Regions from separate parts of the Homo sapiens genome. Here all the other regions are linked to region 2. The links come from fine-mapping of genetic effects on gene expression. A gene starts in region 2. Each other region holds a variant in brackets. All regions are shown on one strand. Distances are from middle to middle.

Region 1 (2,755 bases), 27 kb after region 2:
TGGGCACCTATAGTCCCAGCTACTTAGGAGGCTGAGGCAGGAAAATTGCTTGAACCCAGGAGGCAGTGGTTGCAGTGAGCCGAGATCGTGCCACTGCACTCCAGCCTGAGTGACAGAGTGAGACCTTGTGTCACAAAAAAAAACAAAAAACAAAAAATACCTGGCCAGACATGGTGGCTCACGCCTGTAATCCTAGCACTTTGGGAGGCAAAAGTGGGTGGATCGCTTGAGGCCAGGAGTTTGAAACCAGCCTGGGCAACACAGTGAAACCCTGTCTCCACAAAAAATAGATAAATTAGCTGGGCATGTTGGCACCAGTCTCCCTCTGGCACCCGGCTGGAGTGCAGTGCCACAATCATGGCTCACTGCAGCCTCAACCTCCGAGGTCCAAGTGAGCCCCCCACCTCAGCCTCCTGAGTATCTGGGATCACAGGCACACACCAGCACACATGACTGGGTGTTTTTGTATTTTTGCAGAGACAAGAGACTCGCCATGTTGCCCAGGCTGATCTTGAACTCCTAGCTTCAAGTGATCCGCCTGTCTTGACCTCCCAAAGTGCTGGGATTATAGGCGTGAGCCACTGCGCCTGGCCAGGGATTACATTTCAACATGAGATTTGGGTGGGACATCTGAACTATATCATGGGCCAAACCATATTTCTTTCTTTCTTTTTTTTTTTTTTTTGAGACAGAGTCTCGCTCTGTCGCCCAGGCTGGAGTGCAGTGGCGCAATCTCGGCTCACTGCAACCTCTGCATCCCAGGTTCACGCCATTCTCCTGCCCCAGCCTTCCGAGTGGCTGGGACTACAGGTGCCCACCACCACACCCGGCTAATTTTTTTTTTGTATATTTAGTAGAGACAGGGTTTCACCATGTTAGGATGGTCTCGATCTCCTGACCTCGTGATCCGCCCACCTTGGCCTCCCAAAGTGCTGGGATTACAGGTGTGAGCCACTACACCCGGCCTTCTTTTTTTTAAATTTTATTTTACTTTAGTTCTGGGATACATGTGCAGAACGCGCAGGCTTGTTACATAGGGATACACGTGCCATGGTGGTTTGCTGCACCTATTGACCTGCCCTCTAAGTTCCCTCCCCTTGCCTCCCACCCCCCAACACCATATTTATTTTTAACAAAAGAAAATAGACCAGGCGCAGTGGCTCACGCCTGTAATCTCAGCACTTTGCGAGGCCAAGGTGGGCAGATCACAAGGTCAAGAGATCGAGACCATCCTGGCTAACACAGTGAAACCCCGTCTCTACTAAATATACAAAAAAAAAAAATTAGCCGGGCATGGTGGCAGGTGCCTGTAGTCTCAGCTACTCAGGAGACTGAGGCAGGAGAATGGCGTGAACCCGGGAGGCGGAGGTTGCAGTGAGCCAAGATCGCACCACTGCACTCTAGCCAGGGCGACAGAGTGAGAGTCCGTCTCAAAAAAAAAAAAAAAGAAAGGCGGTTATGCAGGATGTTTCTCACCGCCCGAACCCCCGTGGAATGATTCACTTTGACCAGCGTCTGCGAAATGGCAGGGGCTTCCACAATGGTGCGGTTTGGGCCAACACCAAGTGTTGGGGAGAATGTAGAGGAACTGGATCTCTCATTTACTGCGGG[C/T]GGGGCTCCCCTGCCCCACACGTGACCCACCTGTCCCTGCAGGTAGCCGGGCTGAGAGGCCCTGTGCTGCGCCTGCGGGAGCCGCTGGGTGTGCTGGCTGTGGTGTGTCCGGACGAGTGGCCCCTGCTTGCCTTCGTGTCCCTGCTGGCTCCCGCCCTGGCCTACGGCAACACTGTGGTCATGGTGCCCAGTGCGGCCTGTCCTCTGCTGGCCCTGGAGGTCTGCCAGGTATAGCCCCCTGCCTTCCTGCCTCTCCTCCCCGTAGCCTCAGGGCAGCAGAAAAAGGCGCCCCAAAGTCGGCAGGAGCTTGTCTCTTACCCCACCCTCCGTGGTACCCATGCTGCCCCCAGCCCCAGCACCCAAACCTTCACTCCTTGGGGACCCAGTGCCCATTCTTCACCCTAGGCCTGGGGCTTTCTCCTCCATGACCCCCCATCCCCTTCCCTCCCATGGGCACCCCCTGAATGCCCACTCCTTGCCCTGCCCCCACGGCCTCCCCAACCTTTCACTCTCTCTATCCCCTAGGACATGGCCACCGTGTTCCCAGCAGGCCTGGCCAACGTGGTGACAGGAGACCGGGACCATCTGACCCGCTGCCTGGCCTTGCACCAAGACGTCCAGGCCATGTGGTATTTCGGATCAGCCCAGGTGCTCTTTGTTCTGTTTTGCCATCTTCAGCATCTCAAACTTCAAACAGGCTCCTCCTTTTCTGGAAACACAGCCCCGCCCTCTTAGAACTCCTGTTGGTAAGGGGAGAAACTCCTTGACAAGAAGGTTTTGAGGCCCCGCCCTTAGGACTCAAGTTACTAAGGAAGAGGCTGTCCTTAGCAACAGGGGCCTGAGAGCTGCCTAGCCCAAAGACCTCGTCTCAGGGGACAGCCCGTTGCTAAGGACCACACCCTAGATTTGGAGGCCCACAGTCTACGCTTTGTTTTTCTATTTTGAGACAGAACCTCACCCTGTCACCCAGATGCAATCATACCTCACTGCAGCCGCAACCTCCCAGGCTCAAGCCACCGTCCCACCTCAGCTTCCTGAGTAGCTGGGACCACAGGCGTGCACCACCATGCCCAGCTAATTTTTTTCTTTTGCAGAGACTGGGGTTTCTCTATGTTGGCCAGGCTGATCTTGAACTCCTGGGCTC
Region 2 (2,755 bases):
CGTCACTGCACCATCCTCCTGCCCACCTCCCCCCACTTCTGTCCAGCCTTATTCTTGTCTCTCATGTTACTAGAGGGTGGGGTAACTTTGGAGCTAAGAGGTGATCTGCAGCAAGCAAGACTGATGTTAGACTTAGCAAAGGACCCCCATGGCCTAGCGAGGTGGACTGAAGCTCAGCGAAACACAGGGTCAGGGCTGTGGGCCAAGGGGACAGGGCCTGAGGGCACGGCGGCAGGGGCATGGTGCTGATGAGGCCATCTCCTTCGTGCACTGTGGCCAGATATATTTTTAGGCTTTTCCGCAGCTGAGTAATTTATCTGACTTAGAGCCAAAGCTGGGGTTGGGGGTGAGAGCCTGTGGGGAGGTGTCCAGATTATCCTGAGGGACACTCGGTTCACTGGGGTCATCAACCTGGTTGGGAGGGAGTCCCTGTCAGCCCCAGCCTGTATCCTTTGGGAAGGCTGTCCTACCCCAGGAGCCGAAATTTTTGGCCTCTAACTCCTTTCTCTCCCAGGGACCCAGGGTGCTGTGACTTCTTCCACCCAGCCTCACCCCCTCAAGGACAACGGGCTATGAGCCCCAATCCGCTTTAGCTGCAGATTAAACTCCATGCCAGACAGAAACGGAAAAAGACACAGAGAGACGGAGAGACCCATGGTGGGAGAATTAAAACACAGAGACGGGGACAGGGACCCAGAGAAGTGGGGACCAGAGATCCAGGGAAGAGGAGAGACCCAGAAAGAGGGGGACAGAGACTCTGAGTCAGGAGTTGATAGAGATCCAGTGAGAGCAATGGCCAGAGAACCAGAGAGAGGGGCACAGAGACGCAAAGAAGCGGAGGCAGAGATCTAGGGAGAAGGAGGGGCCCAGAGAGAAGGGAGCCGAGATCTGGAAAAAGAGGGAGACGGAGACCCAGAGAGAAAAGGGGCAGAGACATCCAGAAAGAGACGGGGACAGAGACCCAGAAGTGGTGGGGGAGGAGCCAGAGACCCGGGAGAGAGGCATTTACAGCACCAGAGAGAGTGGAGCCGGGTGGGGTGGGGTGCAGAAAAAGGAACAGGATAATGGACAAGGCTCGACCAGGGAGAACAGCGCCGTCGGAGCCCACGGCAGAAAACTGGACAGATGGGTGGACCCCCATGCCGGGGTATCGCCCGTTCATCTGTCAGTCTGCGCCCAGGTGGGAATTAGCATCCTCCTCAGATCCTCCCACTCTTCTCCCGGGACCCCCGCCAGGCTCACCGGTGCAGCTTCCCGAGAGCACGACCCGCTAGCTTCCGAAACTCCTCCTGGCGGAACTCCATGGTGGCGGCTCCTGCCGCCGGTCACCCCGCGGGTCCCCCCCGCCGATCCCCCCGCCCGCGGGCCCGGGCGGCCGCGTCCGGGTTCCCGGGGTCCAGCCCCGGCCCGGCCGGCCCCGCAGCTCCGCTCGGGGGGAAGGAGGCTGCAAGTGCAGGCGGCCCGGGGGCTGTCACAGGACTCAGCGCCGGGGGCGGGGCGCGGGAGGCCCCGCCCCGGCCCCACCAGGCCCCTCCCCTCGTCTGTCAGACCCGCCCCCTCTCGCAGCCCTTTCATCCTCGTCCTGTCCCCTCCTGAGCCTTCCAAGACCACGCCTGTGGGTTCTGAACTCACGCCTCCGAGTTCACGCCCCCCAATTCTGTTCCTTCCCCAGGCTACTCCCCCTATCCCTGTTCCATCACCCCTGGCTCCTACCCAGATTTTCTCTCCTCTCCTGAGTTCTCATCCCCATCATTTCTCTCCCCGACTTCTGTTCCCCCTAATTGCGTCCCTTACAATCCTGTCTTCTCTGACTTTCCCTCTGCGTTCATCCTCCAGTTCCTTCACTCCTCCCCGCCCCCACCCCGCAATTCCATCCCCATCCCACCTCGTCCCCAGTTCCAATAGTCTCATCCAGGGAGTTCTTTGTTTTCTCATTCAAGGGAAATTCTTTCCCCTCAAGTCCAACGCCTACTTCGATCCACCTGTCGTCCCCCTCTAGTCCCTTTCGCCACCCGGGTTCTTCACCCTTGAGCTCCATCTCCTCCTTAGTTTCCATCTTTCCCCTTTGAATCCCATACTCCTCCAGCTCTATTCTCCCTCCGGCGTCTCTCTCCTCCCTGTTGCTTCTCTCCCTGAGTTTCATTCCCTAACCCCGATTTTCTTCCCTCTGGCTTCCGCCCCCCACAGTTATATTTCACACACCCCGCCAGTGCCAGCTGCGACCCCATAGTCTCCCCATTGTGTTATTTCTCTGCTCCTCTGGGATCTGTCCGCGCTCTGAGTTCTTCCCTAGCTCCGGGGGATCCATTCCTCTATTTGAGTTCTGTCTCCACCCCCTGAGATCTGTCCCGCCCCCTAAATTGTGATCCGCACCCCCTGGCATCCTCACCCGCCCTCTGAATTTGTCTCCTCCCCTAGGATCTGTCGCTGACCTGAGTTCTGCCCCCGCCCTCTGAGTTCTCTCCCCACCGTTGGAGTTGTGTCCCCTTCTCCTAGGATCTGTCCCTGGCTCTGTTCCCGCCCTCTCAGTTCTGTCCTTGCCCCCTGGAATCTGTTCCTGCCATCTGAGTTCTACCCCTTCCCCACAGGATCTATCTCTGCCCCCTGGAATCTGTCCCCACCCACCGAGTTCTGGCCTCCGTCCCTGGGATCTGTCCCCGCCCTCTGTGTTCTACCCCTGCCCCATGGGATCTGTCCCCGCCCACCCAGTTCTCCCCGCCCCCTGGATCTCTCCCTACCCTCCCAGTCTTGCCCC
Region 3 (2,755 bases), 330 kb after region 2:
GTGAAACTCCGTCTCCAAAAATAAAAAAAAAGAAAAAGAAACTCCTGTCCTTGGGAGCTCCCTTCCCCGAGGAAGACAGAACATATGCACAGGGAACACCCTGATATACAACCTCAGGACCTGACTGGTTCTGTGAAGAAAAATAAGGAGGAAATGGTCGGGAGAGGGACTAGGATGGAGAGGGTACTCAGTAGGCCTCGTGGAGGAAGTCATATCTGAGTGGAGCAAGCCCTGTGGATTTTGGAGGAAAGGGGTCCTGGCACAGGGAGGTGCATTCAGAGGTCCTGAGGTTGCGGCATGCTTGACATGTGTTCGAGCGAGAGGGAGAAGGTCAGTGTGGCTGAAGCTGTGGGAGTGAAGGGGAGAGAGGGCGGGTGTGGAGGGGAGTGGGAACAGGATCGGGAAAGGCTTTCTGGGCCATGGTGAGCACTTTGGCCTTTGTCTGCATGAGAATATTTTGAGCAGGGGAGGGATGTGACCGATTGATGTTTTAAGATAATTCCTCTGGCTGCTGTGAGAACAGATTCTAGAGGTAGCCATGGAAGCAGGGAACCAAATTAGGAGGGTGTTGCAGGCCTCTGGGTGAGAGATGGTGCTGGCTTAACAGGGTGAGAAGGGACTGGTGAGAAATGGGTTGGTGATACATTTTTTTTTCCGAGACAGTCTCTGTTGCCCAGGTTGGAGTGCAGTGGCACGATCATACCTCACTGCAACCTCCGCCTCCCAGGTTCAAGCAATTCTCGTGCCTCAGCCTCCCCGGTAGCTGGGATTACAGGCACCCGCCACCACGCTTGGCTAATTTTTGTATTTTTAGTAGACGCAGGGTTTCCCCATGTTGGCCAGGCTGGTCTCGAACTCCCAACCTCAAGTGATCTGCCCGCCTTGGCCTCCCAAAGTGCTGGCATTATAAGCGTGAGCCACTGCACCCAGCCTGGGATACAACTTGAAGGAAAAACTGTCAGGATTTGCAAAGGGATTTGATGATGGGGGTTGGGGAAGGAAAGAGATCGTCCCGTCACTGCAGGACCCCAGAGACGAGCCAGAGGACAGAGGGGAGATGCAGGCTTGGGGCACTGGTAGTAATTTAGCCACAGGAATTAGGGCTGGAGAATCAGGAGCCTTTTCTTAGCAAGCGTATGTTGAACGGCTGGTATGTCTCAAGAATTGTGCTGAATGCTGGGGACACTGGTGAACAGGACAGACTTGTCCACCCCCTCCATGAAGCTCCCAGCCCTGTGGGGGAGAAGGTGCAACATACAAATTGCAGTAGTCCTTCACACTAATACCTGGACACGGATGTTCACTGCAACATTATTCATGATAGCCGGAAAACAGAAACGGGCCAAATGCCCATCAACTGAGAAATAAAGTGTGGTCTATGTAGTGGAATATTACCGGGCCTTAAAAAATAATGACGTCCTGCTACATGCTGCCACAGGGATGGACCTTGAAAACATGACACCAAGTGAAAGAAGCCAGACACAGGAGGCCACGTGTTGTATGATTCCATGTTGATAGAGTATCTTGAATAGGCAGATCCATGGAGACAGAAAGATTAGTGGTTGCCTAGAGTAGGGGCTGGTGGGATGGGGAGTGACTGCTCATGAATGCATAGGTTCTTTTTTTATTTTTTGAGATGGAGTCTCACTCTGTCGCCCAGGCTGGAGTGCAATGGGGTGATCTCGGCTTACTGCAACCTCTGCCTCCCAAGTTCAGGCGATTCT[C/T]CTGCCTCAGCTTCCTGAGTAGCTGGGATTACAGGCGTGTGCCACCACACCTGGCTAATTTTTGTACTTTTAGTAGAGACGGGGTTTTTACATGTTGGTCAGGATGGTCTCGAACTCCTGGCCTCAGGTGATCCACTACCCCAGCCTTCCAAAGTGCTAGGATTACAGGTGTGAGCTACCATGCCCGGCAGCATTCAGAGCTTCTTTTGGGTTCATGAAAAAGCCTACAGCTGGACACGGCACATGCTTGTAGTCCCAGCTACTTGGGAGACTGAGGTAGGAGGATCATTTGAACCCAGGAGTTCGAATCCAGCCCGGGCCACATAGTGAAACCTCATCTCTTAAAAAAAAAAAAAAAAAAAAAAAGAAAGGTCCTGGAATTCGATAGTAGTAATGGTTGCACAACATCATGAATGTACTAAAGAACGCTGAATTGTTCACTGTAAAAGGGTCAATTTTATGGTATGTGAATTGTATCTCTTTTTTTTTGTGACAGTCACAAAAATGGCGCGATCTTGGCTCACTGCACCCTCCATTTCCCAGGTTCAAGCGATTCTCCTGCCTCAGCCTCCCGAGTAGCTGGGATTATAGGCGCCCGCCACTATGCCCCGCTGATTTTTGTATTTTTAGTAGAGACAGGGTTTCACCATGTTGGCCAGGCTGGTCTCGAACTCCTGATCTCGAGTGATCTGCCTGCTTCAGCCTCACAAAATGCTGAGATTACAGGTGTGAGCCACCGCGCCTGGCCGTATCTCGATTTTTTTTTAAATGGGGAAAGAATTTGCAGCTGTCCTAAGCCCAGTGAGGAAGAGGGCCATGGTGTTGAGAGAATGGGGATTCTGTGTGGTCAGCGAGCTGCGGCCTGGCTTTGCTTCACAAGAGACCTTTGGAGCTGTGTGGGCAGGAAGTAGGGGAGTTACCTAGGCTGAGGGCAGTGAGAAGAGCTGTGAAGGCAGAGGCGGGGCAAGTGCAAAGGTCCTGACTTCCGGACGCCATGGCGGGCATCTCTATCTAGTCCCAGCTACTCAGGA

Which allele goes with the higher level. Alleles are on the strand shown, and positions count from the first base shown. SD is a standard deviation of normalised expression in the study named. Not every link is listed here.
In carriers of allele C in region 3, the expression in prefrontal cortex of the gene that starts at base 1,452 in region 2 tends to be lower than with T alone (moderate effect, 0.73 SD a copy in ROSMAP).

What was found. PIP is the estimated chance that this variant, and not a neighbour inherited with it, causes the effect.
Region 1: its variant is the best candidate, but not a certain one, in a credible set for the expression of SLC17A7 in aorta (GTEx, PIP 0.68).
Region 3: its variant is the best candidate, but not a certain one, in a credible set for the expression of SLC17A7 in prefrontal cortex (ROSMAP, PIP 0.67).

Annotation. Positions count from the first base shown.
Region 1 is chr19:49,466,728-49,469,482 of GRCh38, forward strand. It overlaps ALDH16A1 (aldehyde dehydrogenase 16 family member A1), which reads left to right. Exons shown (of 17, transcript NM_153329.4): 15 at 1,654-1,839; 16 at 2,137-2,259. Among named protein-coding and RNA genes, the nearest start is that of FLT3LG, 6.1 kb to the right of the region's middle. RefSeq lists an enhancer at 2,107-2,306 and a silencer at 2,727-2,755. The variant C/T (reference allele first, on the strand shown) is at 1,612.
Region 2 is chr19:49,440,076-49,442,830 of GRCh38, forward strand. SLC17A7 (solute carrier family 17 member 7) reads right to left here and starts at 1,452. Exons shown (of 12, transcript NM_020309.4): 1 at 1,243-1,452. The coding sequence starts at 1,304.
Region 3 is chr19:49,769,237-49,771,991 of GRCh38, forward strand. All of the region lies in intron 1 of AP2A1 (adaptor related protein complex 2 subunit alpha 1), which reads left to right. Among named protein-coding and RNA genes, the nearest start is that of AP2A1, 3.6 kb to the left of the region's middle. RefSeq lists an enhancer at 2,169-2,755. The variant C/T (reference allele first, on the strand shown) is at 1,725.